Regions from separate parts of the Homo sapiens genome. Here region 2 is linked to region 1. Evidence: fine-mapped expression QTL. A gene starts in region 1. The other region holds a variant in brackets. All regions are shown on one strand. Distances are between the middles of the regions.

Region 1 (12,811 bases):
TTTCCCAAATGGTGCCATAGGCTGGGCTCCCCCAATGATGCCATGCTGTAGCCGCTTAGGTCTTGAGGGGGAGGTTATGTGAGATGCAGCATGACCTCCCTCTCTGGAGCAATGCCATTGCACAGTCTTCAGGCAGTTCCTTATGTTAGTCTGAAAACCCACAGTGCTCTAGGTGCTATCCCATGGCTAGGACTACAGGAGTCTGTGGAGGAAATGTGAACCACTGGGGATCTCTAACTTACCCTTTTCCTACACTGCGGAGGCTCTCTTAGCTGACAGACAATGCTAATCAAGCAGACTGCCCTGCTTCCTTCTTCATTCTTCCCTAGATGTTTCCTGTCACTCCTTGGCTTAATTCTTGTGTTTCCTTTTAGATGATCTATTTGAGGTGTTATTATCTACTTGTTATTTTGGTTCTTCTTTGTGGAGATGGCGAGTTCCAGATGCCTTTAATCAGCCTTCTAGAAGCCAATTCTATATTTTTTTCACTAGGACTTAATCATACTTGTTCTAGAACATCATGTAAATGGAAATTATAAACTTTGTATTTTTGCATACAGTTTCTTTTTTCAATATAGTATATGTGAGATTAATGCATGCTTTTGTTTTTATCAGCATTCTATTTCTTTTTATTGCTGAGTAACATTACATTTGGATATGGATGTTAACAACTTATCCATATTGCTGGATGGATGTTGTTATTGGACATATGGCTTTTTTTCAGTTTATGTTTTGTAAATGCAGCTGCTATTTACATATTCTTTTATGAAATCTTATGGACACAAATATTTGGTAATATTTGGTGATTTTTATTTACTAAGTAGGCTTATTTTTAACTTTATAAGCCTTTTAACAGAACTTTATAAGACCTGAGCAGCAGGTTTATTTCCAAAAGTATGGAGAATTACATTAAATGTAATTTAATGGACTAAATACTGCAATTAAAGGGACTAAATATACCAATTAAAAGTCACAGTTTTAAGGCAGCATTGAATAGGTGTCCCATCTAAATGCTGTCTACAAGTGGTAGATTTAAATATAAGGACATAGGTAGGTTAAATGTAATAGGATGTAGTAAAAAATTGATTTTATAGGTTTCATGTAATTCTTATGAAAATTCCAGGAAGTTATTTTTTAGATATAAACATCTTAATTCTAAAATGTATGTGGGAAGAAACAGGCCATAGAATAGCTAAGTCAATTAGACTCCCACACAATAATAGCGGGAGAATTTAACACCCCACTGTCAATATTAGACAGATCAATGAGACAAAATTAACAAGGATAGCAAGGACTTCAACTCAGCTCTAGACCAAGTAGACCTAATTGACATCTACAGACCTCTCCACCCCAAATCAACAGAAGATACACTCTTCTCAGCACCACATTGCATTTATTCTAAAATTGACCACACAATTGGAAGTAAAACACTCCTCAGCAAATGTAAAAGAATGGAAATCTTAACAAACAGTCTCTCAGACCACAGTGCAATCAAATTAGAACTCAGGATTAAGAAACTCACTCAAAACCGCAGAACTACATGGAAACTGAACAATCTCCTCCTGAATGACTACTGAGTGAATAATGAAAAGAAGGCAGAAATAAAGATGTTCTTTGAAACCAATGAGAACAAAGACAAAATGTACCAGAATCTCTGGGACACATTTTAAATCAGTATATAGAGGGAAATTTATTGCACTAAATGCCCACAAGAGAAAGTGAGAAAGATCTAAAATCAACACCTTAACATCACAATTAAAAGAACTAGAGAAGCAAGAGCAAACAAACTCAAAAGCTACCAGAAGACAAGAGATAACTAAAATCAGGGAGAATTGAAGGAGATAGAGACATGAAAAACCCTTCAAAAAATCAATGAATCCAGGAGCTGGTTTTTTGAAAAGATCAGCAAAATAGATAGACCACTAACCAGACAAATAAAGAAAAGAGAGAAGAATCAAATAGATGCAATAAAAAATGATAAAGGCGATATCACCACTAATCCCACAGAAATACAAACTACCATCAGAGAATACTATAAACACCTCTACGCAAATAAATTAGAAAATCCAGAAGAAATGGATAAATTCCTGGATACATACACCATCCCAAGACTAAACCAGGAAGAAGTCGAATCCCTGAATAGACCAATAACAAGTTCTGAAATTGAGGCAGTAATTAATAGTCTACCTACCAAAAAAAGTCCAGGACCAGATGGATTCACAGCCAAATTCTGCCAGAGGTACAAAAAGGAGCTGGTACCATTCCTACTGAAACTGTTCCAAAATATAGAAAAAGAGGGAGTCCTCCCTAACTGATTTTATGAGGCTAGCATCATCCTGATACCAATCCGGGAAGAGACACAACAACAACAAAAAAAGAAAATTTCAGGCCAATATCTCTGATGAATATTGATGTGAAAATCCTCAATAAAATAATGGCAAACAGAATCCAGCAGCACATCAAAAAGCTTATCCACCACTACGAAGTCAGCTTCATCCCTGGGATGCAAGGCTGGTTCAATATACACAAATCAATAAATCTAATCCATCACATAAACAGAACCAATGACAAAAACCACGTGATTATCTCAAGAGGTGCAGAAAAGGCCTTCGACAAAATTCAACACCCCTTCATGCTAAAAACTCTAAATAAACTTGGCATTGGTTGAACGTATCTCAAAATAATAAAAGCTACTTATGACAAACCCACAGCCAATATCATACTGAATGGGCAAAAGCTGAAAACAGTTCCTTTGAAAACTGGCATAAGACAAGGATGCCCTCTCTCACCACTCCTATTCAACATAGTATTGGAAGTTCTGGCCAGGGAAATCAGGCCAAAGAAAGAAAGAAAGGGTATTAAATGAGGAAAAGAGGAAGTCAAATTGTCTCTGTTTGCAGATGACATGATTGTATATTTAGGAAACCCAGTCTCAACCCAAAATCTCCTTAAGCTGATAAGCAACTTCACCAAGTCTCAGGATACAAAATCAATGTGCAAAAATCACAAGCATTCCTATACACCAATAACAGACAGCCAAATCATGAGTGAACTCCCATTCACAATTGCTACAAACAGAATAAAATACCTAGGAATCCAACTTACAAGGGATGTGAAGGACCTCTTCAAGGAGAACAGAAAGCCACTGCTCAAGGAAATAAGAGAGTATACAAACAAATGGAAAAGCATTCCATGCTCATGGATATGAAGAAACAATATTGTGAAAATGGCCATACTGCCCAAAGTAATTTATAGATTCAATACTATCTCCGTCAAGCTACCATTGGCTTTCTTCACAGAACTGAAAAAAAAATACTTTAAATTTCATATGGAGCCAAAAAACAGCCCGCATAGCCAAGACAATCCTAAGCCAAAAGAACAAAGCTGGAGGCATCACACTACCTGACTTCAAACTATACTACAAGGCTACAGTAACCAAAACAGCATGGTACTGGTACCAAAACAGATATATAGACCAATGAAATAGAACAGAGCCCTCAGAAATAATGCCACACATCTACAACTATCTGACCTTTGACAAATCTGACAAAAACAAGCAATGGGGAAAGGATTCCCTATGTAATAAATGGTGTTGGGAAAACTGGCTAGCCATATGCAGAAAACTGAAACTGGACCCCTTCCTTACACTTTATACAAAAATTAACTCAAGATGAATTAAAGACTTTAACATAAAACCTAAAACCATAAAAACCCTAGAAGAAAACCTAAGCAATACCATTCTGGACATAGGCATGGGCAAAGACTTCATAACTAAAACACCAAAAGCCATGGCAACAAAAGCGAAAATTGACAAATGGGATCTAATTAAACTAAAGAGCTTCTGCATAGCAAAGGAAACAATCATCAGAGTGAACAGGCAACCTACGGAATGGGAGAAAATTTTTGCAATCTATCCATCTGACAAAGGGCTAATATCCAGAATCTACAAAGAACTTTAAAAATTTACAAGAAAAAAAAAACCCCCATCAAAAAGTGGGCAAAGGATATGAACAGACACTTCCCAAAAGAAGACATTTATGTAGCCAACAAATGTATGAAAAAAAGCTCATCATCACTGGTCATTAGAGAAATGCAAATCACAAAGACAATGAGATACCATCTCATGCCTGTTAGAATGGAGATCATTAAAAAGTCAGGAAACATCAGATGCTGAAGAGGATGTGGAGAAATAGGAACGCTTTTAGGTGTTGGTGGGAGTGTAAATTAGTTCAACCATTGTGGAAGACAGTGTGGTGACTCCTCAAGGATCTAGAACTAGAAATACCATTTGACCCAGCAATCCTGTTACTGGGTATATACCCAAAGGATTATAAATTATTCTACCATAAAGACACATGCACACATATGTTTATTGCAGCACTGTTCACAATAGCAAAGACTTGGAACTAACCCAAATGCCCATCAATGATAGACTGGATAAAGAAAATGTGGCACATATACACCATGGAATACTATGCAGCCATAAAAAAGATGAGTTCATGTCTTTGTAGGGACATGGATGAAGCTGGAAACCATCCTTCTCAGCAAACTGACACAAGAACAGAAAACCAAACACTTCACATTCTCACTCATAAGTGGGAGTTGAACAGTGAGAACACATGGATGCAGGGAGGGGAATATCACACACTGGGGCTTGTCTGGGGGTGGGAGGCTAGGGGAGGGATAGCATTAGGAGAAATACCTAATGTAGATGATGGGTTGATGGGTGTAGCAAATCACCATGGCACATGTATAGCTATGTAACAAAACTGCACGTTCTGCACATGTATCCCAGACTTAAAGTATAATAATAAAAAAAAACTAAAAAAATAATAAGGTCAAGTATGGTCAAGTACATAGAGATAGGGAATGGAATGGTGTTTACAAGGGCTGGGGTGTGAGGGGTGGGAAGAAGTGGGGAGATGTAAGTCAAAGGATACAAAGTAGCCTATATGTAGGATGAACAAGTTGAAGTATCTCATGTACAACAGGAGAACTGTAATTAATAACAGTATCTTGTGTTTTTGATAAATGAATAGATTATATGTGCTTTTGCCAAAGGGGGGAATGGGTAACTTTTCCCATTTGTGAGATGATTGATAGGTTAATTGGTTCCACTATAGTTAGCATTTTATATATCTCTATATATCTTTATCTATATATATACATATGTATCTTATAACATCATGTTGCTTATCTTAAATATGCACAATAACATTGATTTTAAAAAAACAAACAATTGTATATACATTCTATGGAATAATATTCAGCAATAAAAAGGAACAAAGTATTCATATATACAGCAACTTAGATGAATATCTGTAGAGTTTCTGATTTTTCAAAAGCCAACCTGAGAAGGATATATACCATATTATTCTCCTAGAAGGAGGGATATCTGTGGAGATGTAACTGTTCACTATCTTGATTGTGATGATGGGCACACTAAATTACACACATAAAATTGTATAGTACTATATGCATACACGGATACAGATAAACCAACAAGGGAAATATTAATAAAATCAGTAGATTGTATCAGTATCAAGATCCTGGTATTATACTACATTGTATCATACTAGCATCTTGATGTTGATACAATATTATACTACAGTTTTGTAAAATATTACCATTAGAGGAAACAGGGTGATGAGTATATGATTACTCCTTGTGTTATTTCTTGCAACTGCATGTAAATCTATAATAATCTCAAAAAACATTTCATTAAAAATCTAAAACATGGGAAAGTTATCTGATGCAAACTATAAGAAACCTGGCATAGCCATGTTAACGTTAAAAAATATATAATTCAAAATGAGGAGCATCACTAGAGATAGAGGCATAGTTTATAACAATAAAATAAACAATTTATCTGGATTCCCAAAACTAACATGGAAAAGATCTTCCAATGTGCTATATATAAATGAATAAATAAGCCCAAGGAAATAAACTCCTATATGAGCTGAACACTGCCTTTCTCTTCTATTTATATTTCATATAATTTAAAGTTATGTGAGTTCCTCATGTGATTTAACCTGAAGCATAATATCAGTTAACAAAAGATAGTAATGGCATCACATTCCAATTTGCTTTAAAAAGCAAAACATGGTAATTGGGATTTGCATTTATTCATCATTTTAATCTAAATTCAGTACTAAAGGAGAAAAACCCTGACTTTCTGCTCTTTTCATGGAAAAATTATAAAGCAGTTTACTTTTGTGTCTCTCAAATTTCACTTCCTAGAAATAACAACACTGTTTAACCGATTTCTTTTAGCTTATTTAGAGAACATGTACATGCCAAAGTCCAATGTAAATTTCATGAGTCACTTGAGGACAAACATATTTGGAGAGAGTAAACCTTTAAACGGATTTTATTGTCAACAGCTAGAAGTATCTCTATGAAATAATGATCTCTATGACTACAAAATAACATCTACCTCCTGATAGCAAAAGAACTGAGGAAGCTCTTTCCACTACGGCTGTATTGCACTGGTGAGTCCGGGCCCATGGATGAGAAATTGATGCGAGGATCAATACAAGCTTAATTTGAATTAATAAAAGGAAATATTTTCTCCCTTTGAACTTATCTCCGTAAAGCCATTGTGCCTCCTCTTGGGGGTCACGTGTTCACAATCAATGGCCTTTGAGGAGCTCTTGAGTCAAGTTGGAGGCCTTGGGAGATTTCAGATGCTTCATCTGGTTTTTATTCTTCCCTCTCTCATGTTATTAATCCCTCATATACTGCTAGAGAACTTTGCTGCAGCCATTCCTGGTCATCGTTGCTGGGTCCACATGCTGGACAATAATACTGGATCTGGTAATGAAACTGGAATCCTCAGTGAAGATGCCCTCTTGAGAATCTCTATCCCACTAGACTCAAATCTGAGGCCAGAGAAGTGTCGTCGCTTTGTCCATCCCCAGTGGCAGCTTCTTCACCTGAATGGGACTATCCACAGCACAAGTGAGGCAGACACAGAACCCTGTGTGGATGGCTGGGTATATGATCAAAGCTACTTCCCTTCGACCATTGTGACTAAGGTAAAGGGTCCTGTTAACCTGTTCTGGATACACAATCCAGGTGTTTAGAAGAAAATAAACATGCTTTAAGCCTCTAGTTATTGTGTAGATAGTGTAGTCAGCACTCAGACACTCTTTTGGCAAATAGTGATTGCTCTTTTTTTTTTTTTTTTTTTTTTTTTTGAGATGGAGCTTGACTCTTGTTGCCCAGGCTGGAGTGCAATAGTGAGATCTCAGCTCACTGCAACCTCCACCTCTGAGGTTCAAACAATTCTCCTGCCTCAGCCTCTGAAGTAGCTGGGATTACAGACATGCATCATGACACTCAGCTAATTTTTTTTCTTTGTATTTTTAGTGGAGACAAGGTTTCACCATGTTGGCCAGACAGATCTCAAACTCCTGACCTCAGGTGATCCACCCGAAAGTCCTGGGATTGCAGATGTGAGCCACCGCACCTGGCTACTTATTTTTTAATTGTCAGGCACTTACATTGAATTTGAGGCAATGAACTCAACCAACTAGATATAAATACAGCTATCACAAAACTAGCTTGAAGAGAAGACTAATGATTAGAAAAATATTCTTCCTGGTCACTTGTTCTCAGCCTAAGTTGCAAATTGGAAACATCTGTGTTATTTTTAAAATCTGCCTGCTTTGGCTACATGTTACAGAAGCAAATCAGAGTGGATTTCATACTAGCATCAATGGTTTAAAAAGTCTCCTTAATGTGTTTAATGTGTAACAAAAATTGAGAACCACTGAGGTATGCAGTGCTGAATGAATATAAAGACAGACATTAACATAACCTGGAAGGTTTTGTGTGAGGATTTCCAGAGAAATCCATGCTTAAGCCAAGACTTGAATGGTATAGGTAAGAAAATGTAGTAAAAAGAGGCTAGAGAGTGTGTCCACTGAAAGCTATTGCAGCAAGTGAACAATGAGAAGTCAAAAGCTGCTGTGAAGCTATGCTGTATTGGCTTCCTTCTCTTCCAGTGGGACCTGGTATGTGATTATCAGTCACTGAAATCAGTGGTTCAATTCCTACTTCTGACTGGAATGCTGGTGGGAGGCATCATAGGTGGCCATGTCTCAGACAGGTGAGTGTCTCCAGATCAGGGTTATCATTACTCTGCAGTGTTTTTATCAGCTTACAATTAATTTTTTTCACAAAGAAGTGTTATTGAGTTACAATATGCAATTTACACTGTTGGTGCTGCTCTGTTCCCCAGAGAGTTAGATACAGAAATGAATTACAGTGAGTTTAGTGAGTGCCATTTTGTTGCCACAGAGATCTCTGAACAGCATCTCTGTATAGGATACTGAATACAAAAATATCAAAATAGAGAATTCATCCTCCTTGAAGATACAAATATATGAAATGGTGTGTAGACCTTGGCTAGGGATATTGTGTTAAGTCCCTCCTGGACTCTGTGAGCTAAATGCTTGTGGGCTCCCCAGCCTGGTTGTCATTATCATAATTACCCCACTGTAATTAGTAGGAGTATTAGTCTATTCTCATGCTGCTAATAAAGACATACCTGGGACTCGGTAATTTATAAAAGAAAGAGGTTTAATCAACTCACAGTTCCACATGGCTTGGGAGGCCTCACAATTTTGGTGGAAGGTGAATGAGGAGCAAATTCATGTCTTGAATGGTGGCAGGCAAGAAAGCATGTGCAGGGAACTCCCCTTTATAAAACCATCAGATCTCATGAGACTTACTCACTACCAGGAGAGCATCATGGGAAAAACCAGCCCCCATGATTCAATTACCTCCCACTGGCTCCCTCCCATGACACATGGGGATTATTACAATTCAACGTGAGATTTGGTTGGGGACACAGAGCCAAACCATAACAATATGAATTTTAAAATAATAGTTTTTAGCTCTGTGAAGAATCTCAATGGTAGTTTAATAGGAATAGTATTAAATCTATAAATTGCTTTGGGCATGTATTAGTCCACTCTCACCCTGCTGTGAAGAACTGCCTGAGGCTAGGTAATTTATAAAGAAAAGAGGATTAATTGACTCACAGTTCAGCATGACTGGGGAGACCCCAGGAAACTTACAATCATGGTGGAAGGGGAAGTAAACACATTCTTCTTCACATGGTAGCAGGAAAGAGAAGTGGAGGGTGAAGGGGGTAAAAGCCCCTTATAAAACTATCAGATCTCATGAGAACTCACTCACTATAGTGAAACCAGCATGGAGATAATGCCTTCATGATTCAATTACCTCTCACCAGGTCCCTCTCATAACACATGGGGATTATGGGAACTACAATTCAAGATGAGATTTGGGTGGGGACACAGCCAAATCATATCAGGGCAGTATAGCCATTTTTATAACATGGACTCTTTCTACCTATAAGCATGGAATGCTTTTCCATTTTTGTGTGTGTCATCTTTGATTTTTTTTTTTTTTGAGTAGTGTTTTGTAATTCTCCTTGTAGAGATCTTTCACCTCCCTAGTTAGCTGTATTCCTAGGTATTTTATTCTTTTGTGGCAATTGCGAATGGCATTGCTTTCCTTATTTGGCTCTCAGCTTGACTGTTATTGGTGTATAAGAATGTTAGCGATTTTTGCACGTTGATATTCTATCCTGAGACTTGCTGAAGTTGTTTATCAGCTTAAAAAGCTTTTGGGCTGAGACTATGGGGTTTTATAGATACAGTATCATATCATCTGCAAACAGGGATAGTTTGACTTCCTCTCTTCCTATTTGGATGCTCTTTATTTCTTACTCCTGCTTGATTGCCCTAGTTAGGACTTCCAATACTGTGCTGAATTGGAGTGGTGTCTTGTGCCAGTTTTCAAGACGAATGCTTTGAGCTTTTGCTTATTCAATAAGATGTTGGTTGTGGGTTTGTCATACATGGATCTTACTTTTTTGAGGCATGTTCCTTCAATACCTACTTTATTGAGAGTTTTTAACATGAAAGGTTGTTGAATTTTATCAAAAGCCTTTTCTTCATTTATTTAGATAATTGTGTGGTCTTTGTCTTTAGTTGAGTTTATGTGATGAATCACATATATTTATTTACAAATATTGAACCAACCTTGCATCCCAGGGATAAAGCATACTTGATCATGGTGGATAATTTTTCTGATATGCTGCTGGATTTGGTTTGCCAGTATTTTGTTGAGGATTTTTGCATTGATATTCACCAAAGATATTGGCCTGAAGTTTTTGTGTTTTTTTTTTTGTTGTTGTTGTTGTTTTTGTAATCTCTGCCAGGTTTTGGTATCAGGATGAAGCTGGCCTAATAGAATGAGTTAGGGAGGAGACCCTCCTCCCTAATTTTTTGGAATAGTTTCAGCAGGGATGTTGCCAGATCTTCTTTGTACTTCTAGTAGAATTCAGCTGTGATTCTGTTTGGTCCTGGGTGCTTTTTAAAATTATTACTTATTTATTTATTTATTATTATTATTATTATTATTATTATTATTATTATTTTGGTTGATAGGCTTGTTGGGTGTTTTTCTGAGGTGATTAGATTTGATTCCTCTTTCTGTCTTTATCATTTGTTTATTGGTTCTCCTAGTACTTTATAGTTTTACTTGCTTTCATTATGGTAACTGCCATCTCTCTACTTCAAGATGTAAGACTCCCTGGAGAATGTTTTTGGCTGTTTCTGTGGTGGTAATTCCTTTAGTTTTCACTTGTCTGTGAAAGATTTTATAGTTCTTTCATTTCTGAAGCATAGAAGAATTTTTCTGGGTATAATATTCTTTTCTGACAATTTTTTCTTTCAGGACTTTGGATATATTATCCAATTTTCTCCTGCCCTCCAAGGTTTCCACTCAGAAATTTGCTGTTAGTCTAATAGGAATTCCTTTATGTGTGACTCAATGCTTTCTTCTTGCTGCTTTTAGTACTTTTTCTTTATCTTTGCTTTTTTGAAAATTTGACTATAATGTGCCTGCTAGGGGACCTGTTTGAGTTGACTCTATTTGGCATTCTTTGAGCTTCTTGTACCAAGATATCCATGCTTATCCCAAGACTTGGGAAATTTTCAGCTATCATATCATAAAGTATCATAAAATATATTTTCTAACCGTTTCACTTCCCTTCTTCTGGAATTCTCATAATGCAAATATTTATTCACTTACTGGTGTTTATACATTCGGTAGGTTTTCTTCATTCTTTGTAATTCTTTTTTCTTTCATCTGCCTCTATTATTTTTAGCAAACTGTCTTTAAGCTCAGAAATTATTTCTGCTTGTTCCAGTCTATGGTTGAAGCTGTCAGTTGCATTTTTTTTTACTTCATTCATTGAATATTCAACTGTAAGATTTCTGTTTGGTTCTTTTTTATATCTATGTCTTTGTTAAATTTTTCATTTAAATAATGTATTGTTTTTGTAATTATATTGAATTGTCTATAGTTTCTTGTATCTCCCTGAGTTTCTTTAATATTGTTATTTTGAATTCATTTTCTGGCATTTTGTATATTTGTCTATAATTGGGGCCGGTTACAGGAAAATTATTGTGGTCCTTTAAATGTGTCAAATTTCTTTCCTTTGTAATGTTTGATTTGTCTCTACATTGATTTCTTTGGTTGAGTGGAAAGGTTGCCTCTTACAATTTTATGAAGAGATTTCATAAGGAAAGGCTTATTTGTATGAATGGGTCTTGTGTCGTCAGTTTTATGGGGTGTGTCAGGCTTTGGTTCTAGGTGGGCACAGTAGTATTCTTTCTGTGTAGTTTCTTCAGCTTTAACCTAGGCTAGTGACATGTGCTAGTGTCTTAGTGGCATAGGCTGCAAGAGTTGGTTATGGTTGTGGTAAGGCTTTGCTGGGGGTCGGCTTGCCAGGCTGTTTCTCAGATGTGGGGTGCATGCATGCACGTGGTGATTTGGCCAAGTTAAGCCAAGTTAGACTTATGGAGCTATTATTCTGGCCAGGAACACATACATGAGGTTGCTCTGCCAGGCTGGTGGCAAGCCTGCCAGTAGTCCCCCACAGGGCTGTTTTCTCAGACCCAGGACATGGGCACACAGCTACTCAGCCAGCCTGGAGGTCTGAGTGCCAGCGAAGCTTTCAGTTGTTCTGACATCCTGATTGCAGGTGCAGGGCCATTGGGCATACCAAGGGCTTGTCTGCAGGGGGTGGAGCATCATGGAGCTATCCTCAGGTTCTAGAAAGAGGAGCATAGGAGCAGGCTTTACTGGCTGGAAGGCTGTTAGTTGCATAGAGTTCCAGGGTCTTTCCCCCTTGGGGAAGGGTATGCAGCAGTTTAGCTGGCTCAACAGTGGGTTCACCCTGGGCAGAATTGCCAGATTGTTTTTCCAGATGAAAATGAGGGTGGTGGGATTTGTTTCTCTGCTTTGTAGGACCAGAGCCACCACTGATCCTAAGCCCAGACTCTGCACTGCTGGGGTTGTGGTGTTCAGTCACTGATGTGGGCTTCATGGAATGAAGATAGAGTTCCAGTGCTGGAGAGGTGCAGTGGCTACTGGCCCCCAGGACAGGATGCACTCCAGAGGTGGCTCTGGTCTCAAGATGGTGCCATGCTGCAACAGCTTGACTCACAAGGGATAGGCGTGACCTGGGGAATAATACTTTGTGCCCCTAATCTGGGCAATGCAGTTGGGTAAATTTTCGGCAGCTCTCTTTTGGACTCAGGACTTGTGCGGACTATGAAATTCTCCTATGGTAAGAACTGTTGCTGTTTGTGGTGGCAATGGAGACTGGTGGGTTCTTCTGCTACAGAGGCTGGGTGCCTCCATGCTGCCCTCCTGGACTTCCAATCTCCACAGGTGTGTCTCCACCCCCTCGCTGCATTGCAGTGCT
Region 2 (12,811 bases), 23 kb after region 1:
GGATATTATGGTGGTTAACTTTTCATTTGTTGAGGAACCTTCATACTGTTTTCCATAATGGCTGTACTAATTTGCATTTCTACCAATCATGTATAAATTCCTCTTTCTCTACATCTTTACTATCATTTGCTATTTTATGACTTTTTGGTAATAGCCATTCTAATTGGAATGAGATGACATCTCATTGTGGCTTTAATTTGTTTTTTATCAATGATTGGTGATGTTGAGTATTTTTTCATATAACTATTGGGCATTCATGTGTCTTCTTTTATGAAATGTCTATTCAGATCTTTTGCCCATTTTCAAATCACACTTTGTTTTTTACTCTTGAGCTCCTCTTGTGTTTTAGTTATTAGTCCCTTGTTAGACGCGTAGTTTGTGAATATTTTATTTCACTCTGCAGGCTGTCTCTTCACTTCATTGATTGTTTTCTTTGCGGCATAAAGCCTCTTTAGTTTGATATAATTCCATTTGTATATTTTTGCTATTTTAGAATTCCTTCTTTAAATGTTTAGTAGAATTCACCTGTGAAGGCATCAAGTCCTGGGCTTTTCTTTAATGGGAGACTTTTTATTATTGATTCAATTTCCTTATCTTTTTATTGGCCTGTTGAGGTTTTCTACTTCTCCATGATTCAGTCTTAGTAGGTTTGTATGTGTCTAGGGATTTTTCTGTTTGTTTTTTTTTTCTGTTTTTTAATTTTTTGGTTTGTATTTGTTCATAACAGTCTCTAAGGATCCTTTTTGTGATATCAGTGGTGATGTCTCCTCTGCCATCTCTAATTTTATTTGAGTCATCTCTCTTTTTTCTTAGTCTGGCTAAGGCTTGTTGATGTTGTTTGTCTTTTCAAAAAACAAACAAATTTTCCTAATCTTTTGTATTTTTGTCTTTTTTATTTATTTTTGCTCTGATATTTATTATTTCCTTCTACTAATTTTGGTTTTAGTTTGTTTTTGTTTTTCTAGTTCCTTTAGGTTTAATATCAGGTTGTTTATTTGAGATCTTTAAATTTTTTTGATGTAGATATTTAATGCTATAAACTTCCCTCTTAGAATGGCTTTTGCTGTATCCCATAGGTTTTGGTATGTTGTGTTTCCATTTTCTTTTGTCTCAGGAAATTTTTAAATTTTGTTTTTATTTCTTCATTCACCCAATGACTGTTTAGGAGCATGTTGTTTAATTTCCATGTATTTGTAAGTTTTCCAAAGTTCTTTCTTTCTGTTACTAATTTCTAGTTCTATTGCATTGTGATCAGAAAAGATATTTGAAATTATTTTGATTTTAAAAAAAATTGTTGAGTTTTGTTTTGTGGCCTAACATAGGATTTAACCTGAAAAATGTTCTGTGTGCTTCTGAGAAGAATTTGTCTTGTGTAGCTGTTGGATGAAATGTTCTGTAAATGTTGGATCTAGGATGTGATTTAATTTTAATATTTCTTTGTTGATTTTCTATCTGGATGATCTGTCCATTGCTGAAAGTCTCCTATTATTATTTTATGCAGACTATCACTCCATTTAGGTCTATTAATATTTGCTCCATATATTTAGGTGCTCTGATGTTGGGGCATATATATTTATAATTGTTTTATCCTATTGCTGTATTGACCCCTTAAGTATTATATATGGTCTTATCTCTTTTTGCAGTTTCTGGCAAAAAAAAAAAAAAACTGCAAAAAGAAACAAGACCATAATGTTTATTTTATCTGATATAAGCATAGCTACTCCTAGTCTTTTTTAGTTTTCATTTGCATGAAATACTTTTTCCTTTTGTTCAATTCAAGTCTACGTGTGTCCTTATAGTTGAAATGAGTCTCTTATAGGCAGCATATAATTAAGTTAAAAAAAATCCATTCAATCATTCTACGTCTTTAATTGCAGAATTTAGTCCATTTACATTCAAGGTAATTATTAATAGGTAAGGGCTTAACACTGCCATTTTGTTACCGATTTTCTACTTGTTTTGTACATTTTTTTCCCCTGCTTTCACTTTTACAGTTTTTATTTGTGGTTTTCTCTAGTAGTATATTTTGATTCTTTGTGTTTTAATTTTAGCATATCTATTATAGGTTTTTGCTTTGCAGTTACCACAAGGCTTATACAAAATTATATAATTATAACAAGTTATTTTAAATGATAGCAACTTGACACTGATCACAAAGAAAAGAGAAGAAACAGAATAATCTGGTACAATTCAACTCTCCTTCCACGTTTTGATTTTTGTCATGATTTACACTTTTATTTTGCCCACCTCTTAACAAATTATTGTAGTTATTATTTTTGATAGGTTTTTTTTAGTTTTCATACTAAAGATATAAGTAAGTGGTTTACATGCCACAATTACAGTACTAGAGTAACAATCACATTAATGCCCTTTTCTTTAAGTTCAAAAAACTCCATTTAGCATTTCTTGTAGGAGATAGTGATGAATTCCCTCAGCATTTTTTTTTTTTGCCTGGGAAAGTCTTTTTATCTCAACTCATTTCTGAAATATAGCTTTTCTGGGTAGAGTATTCTTGGACAGCAGTCTTTTTTTTTTTCCTTCAGCATTCTGCATATATCATCTCAATCCTTTCTGGCCTGCACATTTTCAGCTACAAGTCTGCTTCCAGGCATATTGGATCTCCCTTATATATTATTTGCTTCTTTTTTTCTTGGTGCTTTCAGGACGCTCTATTTGTCTGCTCTTTGAGAGTTTATTATAATTTTTCTTGGGATATTCTTGTTTGGGTTTAATTTGATTGGTGACAAGAAATAATGTTAAAATAATAAAAATAGCATATTCACTTCTTATGTCTTTCATAACAAGATATCACAAACTTAGGCACTTAAGAAAAGAAATTTATTGTCTCACAGTTCTGGAAGCTAGAAGTCTGAGATCAATTTATTGAAAAGGACTTGACCTCACTGAAGTCTGTAGGGAAGAATCTATTCCAGACACCTCTTCTCACTTCTGGTAGATCCTTGGGTATAGTTTCCCAACTGTAATCTTCACATGGCATTTTTCCCCACGTGTGTGTCTCTACATTCAAATTTCCCCCAACTATTTTTTTTTTTTTAGATAGAGTCTCGCTCTGTCACCCAGGCTGGAGTGCAACCTCTGCCTCCTGGATTCAAACTATTCTCCCATCTCAGCCTCCCAAGTAGCTGGGATTACAGGCACCCACCATCATGTCAGGCTAGTTTTTGTATTTTTGTATAGACAGGGTTTCATCATGTTAATCAGCCTGGTCTTGAACTCCTGACCTCAGGTGATCCACCTGTCTTGGCCTCCCAAAGTGCTGGGATGATAGGCATGAGCCACCACGTCTGGCCTCAAATTCCTCCTTTTTTATAAGGGCACCAGTCATATTGAGTGAGGGGTCCCACTCTACTCCAATATGACCTTGCCTTAACTAGTAACATGTGCAACAACACTGTTTCTGAATAATGTCACATTCTGAGGTATTTAGAGTTAAGACTTCAACATATAAATTTTCTTTGGTGGGGGGACACAATGTAACCCATAATTAATGGTGAGATTTCTTAAATTTTTTAATTCACCCCTTAACTTTCAAAGATGCCATTTACCACAGGTCTAAAAAGACCAAGTGAGAGTAGCAATTTTCAAAACTCCCTTTGGATCTGCACAGGCAGCAGGACCTTTTACAGAGTGAGTGTGATTCGCTAGAAATACTGACTTATAAATAGCTGATGGTGTAATCCCATTTTTGGGTATATACTCAAAGGAATATAATTCATTCTACTATAAAGACACATGCACATGTTTGTCTATTGCAGCACTATTCACAATAGCAAAGACATGGAACAAACCTAAGTGTCCGTCAACAGTAGACTGGATAAAGAAAATGTGGTACATATATACCATGGAATACCATGCAGCCATAAAAAAAAACATGTCCTTTGCAGCAACATGGGTGGAGCTGGAAAACATTATTCTAGGCAAACTAATGCAGGAACAGAAAACCAAATACCATATGTTCTCACTTATAAGTGGGAGCTAAACTACAAAAACACATGGACACAAAGAACTACAGATGCTGGGGCCTACTTGAGGGTGGTGATTGGGAGGAGGGAAAGGATTAAAAAAAACCTATGGAGTACTATGCTTATTACCTGGGTAACTAAATAATATGTACACAAAACCCCTGTGACACACTGTTTGCTATATAACAATCCTGCACATATACCCCTAAACCTAAAATAAAGTTAAAAAATAAATAAATAAATGCTGATGGTCAGAGGTTCAGCTTGCAATGGTGCATAGAGGACATACAAAGTAATTTTGATTTTTTCTGAACGTTTGTTTTTGTTTGTTCTTTTTCAATTTATTGTTTCTGTTTTGTTTTGTTTTTCCAGAAAAAAAAATCTCAAGGAAAAGGCATAAAAATGATTGCTACACAAAAGTGACCAAATTTTAAGAAGCCTTCATGAGCTGATTGGTGGGGAAATTCAGAAAAAAAAATACAGGAAAAGAACACACCAGAAGGGTTTTTTTCCCTACAACCAGCAAGAACATATATTAGATACATGAATCTCAATTATAATTATGGCATTAATTTGCATTTTATTTCAAAATTAACTTGTGGGGACATGTAATCTCTTGAGCAATCTGATATTTTTGGGAAGTCCTTTAAAAAGTTACAAATTTATCAATAAATTACTAGTAGATAAGATGATTCAGAAACAAAAGAAAATCACAGAATTAGGATGTGGCTGGCTGGTGTATGAAGCACCATGTGATGAATTCATAAAGTTGCAAAAGTCAAAACAATACTGTACATGCAACCAGAAATCAAAATAAATCCAGAAATAGAGACCTATATAAATGCATTTAATACATGATACTTTTGACATAATAAGCCATTGGAAAACGGAAAGATTAGATACTAAATAACATTGACTATCTCTTTGTAAATACAGTCACTAAATGATGTTAGTTACTTTTCCATGGTGGAATTTTAATTACTTTTTCTTTGTAATTTTTCTCTCTGTATATTTTAAACAAATAGCTGGTATAGTTTACAATATTATAAAGATATTGTTCAAATTGAAGGGCAAAGGCCAGGTTCAGCAATTTTCAAACTGTATGTACATTTAATAAAATAACTATAAATTAAAAAATTATATTTCAAATGATGTGACTAATAAATGAAAGTACATATAGTAGTAAAGTAATTTCAGGCAAACCTATATAACCAAAATATAAACTTTCATTTTAAACAGCAAAGATTTTAAGTGCTAATGATTCTCAGAGTGGGTGAAGATACACTGAATGTTGGGGTGATCAGACCCAACGCCAGGTCGTCGGGGCGATGAAGTCTGGCGGAGTCAAAGGAATGAGAAAAAGACAATTTGAGAGAGAAAGTGGGACCGGGGGCCATCACAAGTGTGGAGGCTGCGAAGGCCCCAAGCTCTGGGAGCCCATGCTATTTATTGGTGCTCAAACAAACAAACAACTGGTGGTGAGGTGTCGGGGGAAATTCAGCCAGATGTCGGGCAAAATTCACCCCCGATATTTCACATAGGTTCTTTTCTACTTTCCCAAAGCATCGACCAGTTTGAGAAATAAAGGGACGGAGTACAAAAGAGAGAAATTTCAAAGCTGGGCATCTGGGGGAGACGTCACATGTCGGTAGGTTCCATGATG[T/C]CCCCTGAGCCATAAAACCAGCAAGGTTTTATTAGGGATTTTCAAAACAGGAGGGAGTGTTCGAATAGGGTGTGGGTCACAGAGATCATGTACTTCACAAGGTAATAGAATATCACAAGGCAAATGGAGGCAGGGCGAGATCACAGGACCACAAGACGGGTGAAATTAAAATTGCTAATGAAGTTTCAGGCACCATTGTCATTGATAATATCTTCTCAGGAGACAGGGTTTGAGAGCAACTGATCTGACCAAAATTTACTAGGCGGGAATTTCATTATCCTAATAAGCCTGGGAGCGCTATGGAAGACTGGGGCTTATTTCATCCCTACAGTCTCAACCATAGAAGATGGTCACACCCAAGGGGGCCATTTTAGAGGCCCACCCTCAGGTGCGCGTTCTCTTTCTCAGGGATGTTCCTTGCTGAGAAAAAGAATTCAGCGATATTTCTCCCATTTGCTTTCAAAAGAAGAGAAATATGGCTCTGTTCTGCCTGGCTCAACAGCAGTCAAAATTTAAGGTTATCTCTCTTGTTCCCTGAACATTGCTGTTATCCTGTTCTTTTTTCAAGGTGCCCAGATTTCATATAGTTCAAACACACGTACTCTACAACTTGTGCAGTTAATGCAACCATCACAGGGTCCTGAGGCAACATACATCCTCCTCAGCTTACGTGATCACAGGATTAAGAGATTAAAGAGAGAGCGCCAAGATGGCCGAATACGAACAGCTCCGGTCTACAGCTCCCAGCGTGAGCGACGCAGATGATGGGTGATTTCTGCATTTCCATCTGAGGTCCCGGGTTCATCTCACTAGGGAGTGCCAGACAGTGGGCGCAGGACAGTGGGTGCAGCAAACCATGAGTGAGCCGAAGCAGGGCGAGGCACTGCCTCACTTGGGAAGCACAAGGGGTCAGGGAGTTCCCTTTCCTAGTCAAAGAAATGGGTGACAGACAGCGCCTGGAAAATTGGGTCACTCCCACCCTAATACTGCGCTTTTCCGATGGGCTTAAAAAACAGCTCACCAGGAGATTATATCCCGCACATGGCTCAGAGGGTCCCACGCCCACGGAATCTCACTGATTGCTAGCACAGCAGTCTGAGATCAAACTGCAAGGCAGCAGCGAGGCTGGGGATGGGGTGCCCACCATTGCCCAGGCTTGCTTAGGTAAACAAAGCAGACAGGAAGCTCGAACTGGGTGGAGCCCACCACGGCTCAAGGAGGCCTGCCTGCCTTTGTAGGCTCCACCTCTGGGGACAGGGCACAGACAAACAAAAAGACAGCAATAACCTCTGCAGACTGAAATGTCCCTGTCTGACAGTTTTGAAGAGAGCAGTGGTTCTCCCAGCACGCAGCTGGAGATCTGAGAACCGGCAGACTGCCTCCTCAAGTGGGTCCCTGAACCCTGACCCCCGAGCAGCCTAACTGGGAGGCACCCCCCAGTAGGGGCAGACTGACACCTCACATGGCTGGGTACTCCTCTGAGACAAAACTTCCAGAGTAACGATCAGACAGCAGCATTCACAGTTGATGAAAATCCACTGTTCTGCAGCCACCGCTGCTGATACCCAGGCAAACAGCATCTGGAGTGGACCTCTAGCAAACTCCAACAGACCTGCAGCTGAGGGTCCTGTCTGTTAGAAGGAAAATTAACAAACAGAAAGGACATCCACACCAAAAACCCATCTGTACATCACCATCATCAAAGACCAGAAGTAGATAAGACCAAAAAGATGGGGAAAAAACAGAGCAGAAAAACTGGAAACTCTAGAAAGCAGAGCACCTCTCCTCCTCCAAAGGAACGCAGTTCCTCACCAGCAACGGAACAAAGCTGGATGGAGTATGACTTTGATGAGTTCAGAGAAGGTGGCTTCAGATGAACAAACTACTCTGAGCTACAGGAGGAAATTCAAACCAAAGACAAAGAAGTTAAAAACTTTGAAAAAAATTTAGATGAATGTATAACTAGAATAACCAATACAGAGAAGTGCTTAAAGGAGCTGATGGAGCTGAAAGCCAAGGCTCAAGAACTATGTGAAGAATGCAGAAGCCTCAGAAGCTGATGCAATCAACTGGAAGAAAGGGTATCAGTGATGGAAGATGAAATGAATGAAATGAAGTGAGAAGGGAAGTTTAGAGAAAAAAGAATAAAAAGAAATGAACAAAGCCTCCAAGAAACATGGGACTATGTGAAAAGACCAAATCTACGTCTGATTGGTGTGCCTGAAAGTGACGGGGAGAATGGAACCAAGTTGGAAAACACTCTGCAGGATATTATCCAGGAGAACTTCCCCAATCTAGCAAGGCAGGCCAACATTCAGATTCAGGAAATACAGAGAATGCCACAAAGATACCCCTCGAGAACAGCAACTCCAAGACACATAATTGTCAGATTCACCAAAGTTGAAATGAAGGAAAAAATGTTAAGGGCAGCCAGAGAGAAAGGTCGGGTTACCCACAAAGGGAAGCCCATCAGACTAACAGTGGATCTGTCGCCAAAAACACTACAAGCCAGAAGAGAGTGGGGGCCAATATTCAACATTCTTCAAGAATTTTCAACCCAGTATTTCATATCCAGCCAAACTAAGCTTCATAAGTGAAGGAGAAATAAAATACTTTACAGACAAGCAAATGCTGAGAGATTTTGTCACCACCAGGCCTGCCCTAAAAGAGCTCCTGAAGGAAGCACTAAACATGGAAAGGAACAACCGATACCAACCACTGCAAAATCATGCCAAATTATAAAGACCATCCAGGCTAGGAAGAAACTGCAACAACTAACAAGCAAAATAACCAGCTAACATCATAATGACAGGAACAAATTCACACATAACAATATTAACTTTAAATGTAAATGGACTAAATGCTCCAATTAAAAGACACAGACTGGCAAATTGGATAAAGAGTCAAGAACCATCAGTGTGCTATATTCAGGAAACCCATCTCATGGGCAGAGACACACATAGGCTCAAAATAAAAGGACGGAGGAAGATCTACCAAGCAAATGGAAAACAAAAAAAGGCAGGGGTTGCAATCCTAGTCTCTGATGAAACAGACTTTAAACCAACAAACATCAGAAGAGACAAAGAAGGCCATTACATAATGGTAAAGGGATCAATTCAACAAGAAGAGCTAACTAACTATACTAAATATATATGCACCCAACACAGGAGCACCAAGATTCATAAAGCAAGTCATGAGTGACCTAGAAAGAGACTTAGACTCCCACACAATAATAATGGGAGACTTTAACGCCCCACTGTCAACATTAGAGAGATCAATGAGACAGAAAGTTAACAAGGATATCCAGGAATTGAACTCAGCTCTGCACCAAGCAGACCTAATAGACATCTACAGAACTCTCCACCCCAAATCAACAGAATATACATTCTTTTGAGCACCACACCACACCTATTCCAAAATTGACCACATACTTGGAAGTAAAGCTATCCTCAGCAAATGTAAAAGGACAGAAATTATAACAAATTGTCTCTCAGACCACAGTGCAATCAAACTAGAACTCAGGATTAAGAAACTCACTCAAAACCGCTCAACTACATGGAAACTGAACAACCTGCTCCTGAATGACTACTGGGTACATAATGAAATGAAGGCAGAAATAAAGATGTTCTTTGAAAGCAACGAGAACAAAGACACAACATACCAGAATCTGTGGGACACATTCAAAGCAGTGTGTAGAGGGAAATTTATAGCACTAAATGCCCACAAGAGAAAGCAGGAAAGATCCAAAATAGACAACCTAACATCACAATTAAAATAACTAGAAAAGCAAGAGCAAACACATTCAAAAGCTAGCAGAAGGCAAGAAAAAACTAAAATCAAAGAAGAACTGAAGGAAATAGAGACACAAAAAACCCTTCAAAAAATTAATGAATCTAGGAGCTGGTTTTTTGAAAGGATCAACAAAATTGATAGACCGCTAGCAAGACTAATAAAGAAAAAAAGAGAGAAGAATCAAATAGATGCAATAAAAAATGATAAAGGGGATATCACCACCAATCCCACAGAAATACAAAGTACCATCAGAGAATACTACAAACACCTCTATGCAAATAAACTAGAAAATCTAGAAGAAATGGATAAATTCCTCGACACATAGAGCCTCCCAAGACTAAACCAGGAAGAAGTTGAATCTCTGAATAGACCAATGACAGGCTCTGAAATTGTGGCAATAATCAATAGCTTACCAACCAAAAAGAGTCCAGGACCAGATGGATTCACAGCCGAATTCTACCAGAGGTAGAACTGGTACCATTCCTTCTGAAACTATTCCCATCAATAGAAAAAGAGGGAATCCTCCCTAACTAATTTTATGAGGCCAGCCATCATCCTGATACCAAAGCGTGGTGGAGACACAACCAAAAAAGAGAATTTTAGACCAATATCCTTGATGAACATCGATGCAAAAATCCTCAATAAAATACTGGCAAACCGAATCCAGCAGCACATCAAAAAGCTTATCCACCATGATCAAGTGGGCCTCATCCCTGGGATGCAAGACTGGTTCCATGTATGCAAATCAATAAACATAAGCCAGCATATAAGCAGAACCAATGACAAAAACCACATGATTATCTCAATAGATGCAGAAAAGGCCTTTGACAAAATTCAACAATGCTTCATGCTAAAAACTCTGAATAAATTAGGTATTGATGGGAGGTATCTCAAAATAATAAGAGCTATCTATGACAAACCCACAGCCAATATCATACTGAATGGGCAAAAACTGGAAGCATTCCCTTTGAAAACTGGCACAAGACAGGGATGCCCTCTCTCACCACTCCTATTCAACATAGTGTTGGAAGTTCTGGCCAGGTCAATCAGACAGGAGAAGGAAATAAAGGGTATTCAATTAGGAAAAGAGGAAGTCAAATTGTCCCTGTTTGCAGACAGCATGATTGTATATCTAGAAAACCCCATTGTCTCAGCCCAAAATCTTCTGAAGCTGATAAGCAGCTTCAGCAAAGTTTCAGGATACAAAATCATGTACAAAAATCACAAGCATTCTTATACACCAATAACAGACAAACAGAGCCAAATCATGAGTGAACTCCCATTCACAATTGCTTCAAAGAGAATAAAATACTAGGAATCCAACTTACAAGGGATGTGAGGGACCTCTTCAAGGAGAACTACAAACCACTGCTCAATGAAATAAGAGGATACAAACAAATGGAAGAATATTCCATGCTCATGGGTACGAAGAATCAATATCGTGAAAATGGCCATACTGCCCAAGGTAATTTATGGATTCAATGCCATCCCCATCAAGCTACCAATGACTTTCTTCACACAATTGGAAAAAACTACTTTCAAGTTCATATGGAACCAAAAAAGAGCCTGCATTGCCAAGTCAATCCTAAGCCAAAAGAACAAAGCTGGAGGTATCATGCTACCTGACTTCAAACTCTACTGCAAGGCTACAGTCACCAAACAGCATAGTACTGGTATCAAAACAGAGATATAGACCGGTGGAACAGAACAGAGCCCTCAGAATAATGCCACGTATCTACAACTATCTGATCTTTGACATACCTGAGAAAAACAAGCAATGGGGAAAGGATTCCCTATTTAATAAATGGTGCTGGGAAAACTGGCTAGCTGTATGTAGAAAGCTGAAACTGGATCCCTTCCTTACACCTTATACAAAAATTAATTCAAGATGGATTGAAGACTTAAATGTTAGACCTAAAACCATAAAAACCCTAGAAGAAAACCTAGGCAATACCATTCAGGACATAGGCATGGGTAAGGACTTCATGTCTAAAAGAGCAAAAGCAATGGCAACAAAAGCCAAAATTGACAAATGGGATCTAATTAAACTAAAGAGCTTCCGCACAGCAAAAGAAACTACCATTAGAGTGAACAGGCAACCTACAGAATGGGAGAAAATGCTTGCAACCTCCTCATCTGACAAAGGGCTAATATCCAGAATCTACAATGAACTCAAACAAATTTACAAGAAAAAAACAAACAACCCCATCAAAAAGTGGGTGAAGGATATGAACAGACACTTCTCAAAAGAAGACATTTATGCAGCCAAAAAACACATGAAAAAATGCTCATCATCACTGGCCATCAGAGAAATGCAAATCAAAACCACAATGAGATACCATCTCACACCAGTTAGAAAGGCGATCATTAAAAAGTCTGGAAACAACAGGTGCTGCAGAGGATGTGGAGAAATAGGAACACTTTTACACTGTTGGTGGGACTGTAAACTAGTTCAACCATTTTGGAAGTCAGTGTGGCGATTCCTCAGGGATCTAGAACTAGAAATACCATTTGACCCAGCCATCCTATTACTGGGTATATACCCAAAGGATTATAAAACATGCTGCTATAAAGACACATGCACACGTATGTTTATTGTGGCACTATTCACAGTAGCAAAGACTTGGAACCAACCTAAATGTCCAACAATGATCGACTGGATTAAGAAAATATGGCACATATACACCATGGAATACTATGCAGCCATAAAAAATGATGAGTTCATGTCCTTTGTAGGGACATGGATGAAATTGGAAATCATCATTCTCAGTAAACTATCACAAGGACAAAAAACCAAACACCGCATGTTCTCACTCATAGATAGGAATTGAACAATGAGAACACATGGACACAGGAAGGGGAATGTCACACACCAGAGACTGTTGTGGGCTGTGGGGAGGGGGAAGGATAGCATTAGGGGATATACCTAATGTAAATGAGTTAATGGGTGCAGCACACCAACATGGCACATGTATACATATGTAACAAACCTGCACATTGTGCACATGTACCCTAAAACTTAAAGTATAATAATAATAAAATTAAAAAAAATAACCAGGCATGATGGTGTGCCCCTGTAGTCCCAGCTACTCCGGAGGGTGAAGTGAAAAAGGAGGATCACTTGAACCAGGGATGTCGAGGCCGCAGTGAGGTGTGAAGGCACCATTGCACTCCAGCCTGGGCAACAGAGCAAGATCTGTCTCGAAAAGAAAAAGAAAAGAAAGAAAGAAGGAAAGAAAAAGAAAGAAAGAAAGAAAGAAAGAAAGAAAGAAAGAAAGAAAGAAAGAAAGAAAGAAAGAAAGAAGGAGAGGGAGAGAGAGAGAGAGTGATAAGAAAGAAAGAAAGAAAGAAAGAAAGAGAGGGAGAGAGAGAG

Which allele goes with the higher level. Positions count from the first base shown, and alleles are read on the strand shown. Sizes are in standard deviations (SD) of each study's normalised expression.
As copies of T replace C in region 2, the expression in esophagus muscle of the gene that starts at base 6,373 in region 1 goes up (moderate effect, 0.43 SD a copy in GTEx).

Evidence for each region. PIP is the estimated chance that this variant, and not a neighbour inherited with it, causes the effect.
Region 2: its variant is fine-mapped to the expression of SLC22A10 in esophagus muscle (GTEx, PIP above 0.99).

What each region holds. Positions count from the first base shown.
Region 1 is chr11:63,283,531-63,296,341 of GRCh38, forward strand. It overlaps SLC22A10 (solute carrier family 22 member 10 (gene/pseudogene)), which reads left to right and starts at 6,373. Exons shown (of 10, transcript NM_001039752.4): 1 at 6,373-7,037; 2 at 8,010-8,113. The coding sequence starts at 6,636.
Region 2 is chr11:63,306,652-63,319,462 of GRCh38, forward strand. It overlaps SLC22A10 (solute carrier family 22 member 10 (gene/pseudogene)), which reads left to right. Exons shown (of 10, transcript NM_001039752.4): 10 at 4,356-5,132. The coding sequence ends at 4,383. Among named protein-coding and RNA genes, the nearest start is that of SLC22A10, 23 kb to the left of the region's middle. The variant T/C (reference allele first, on the strand shown) is at 5,647.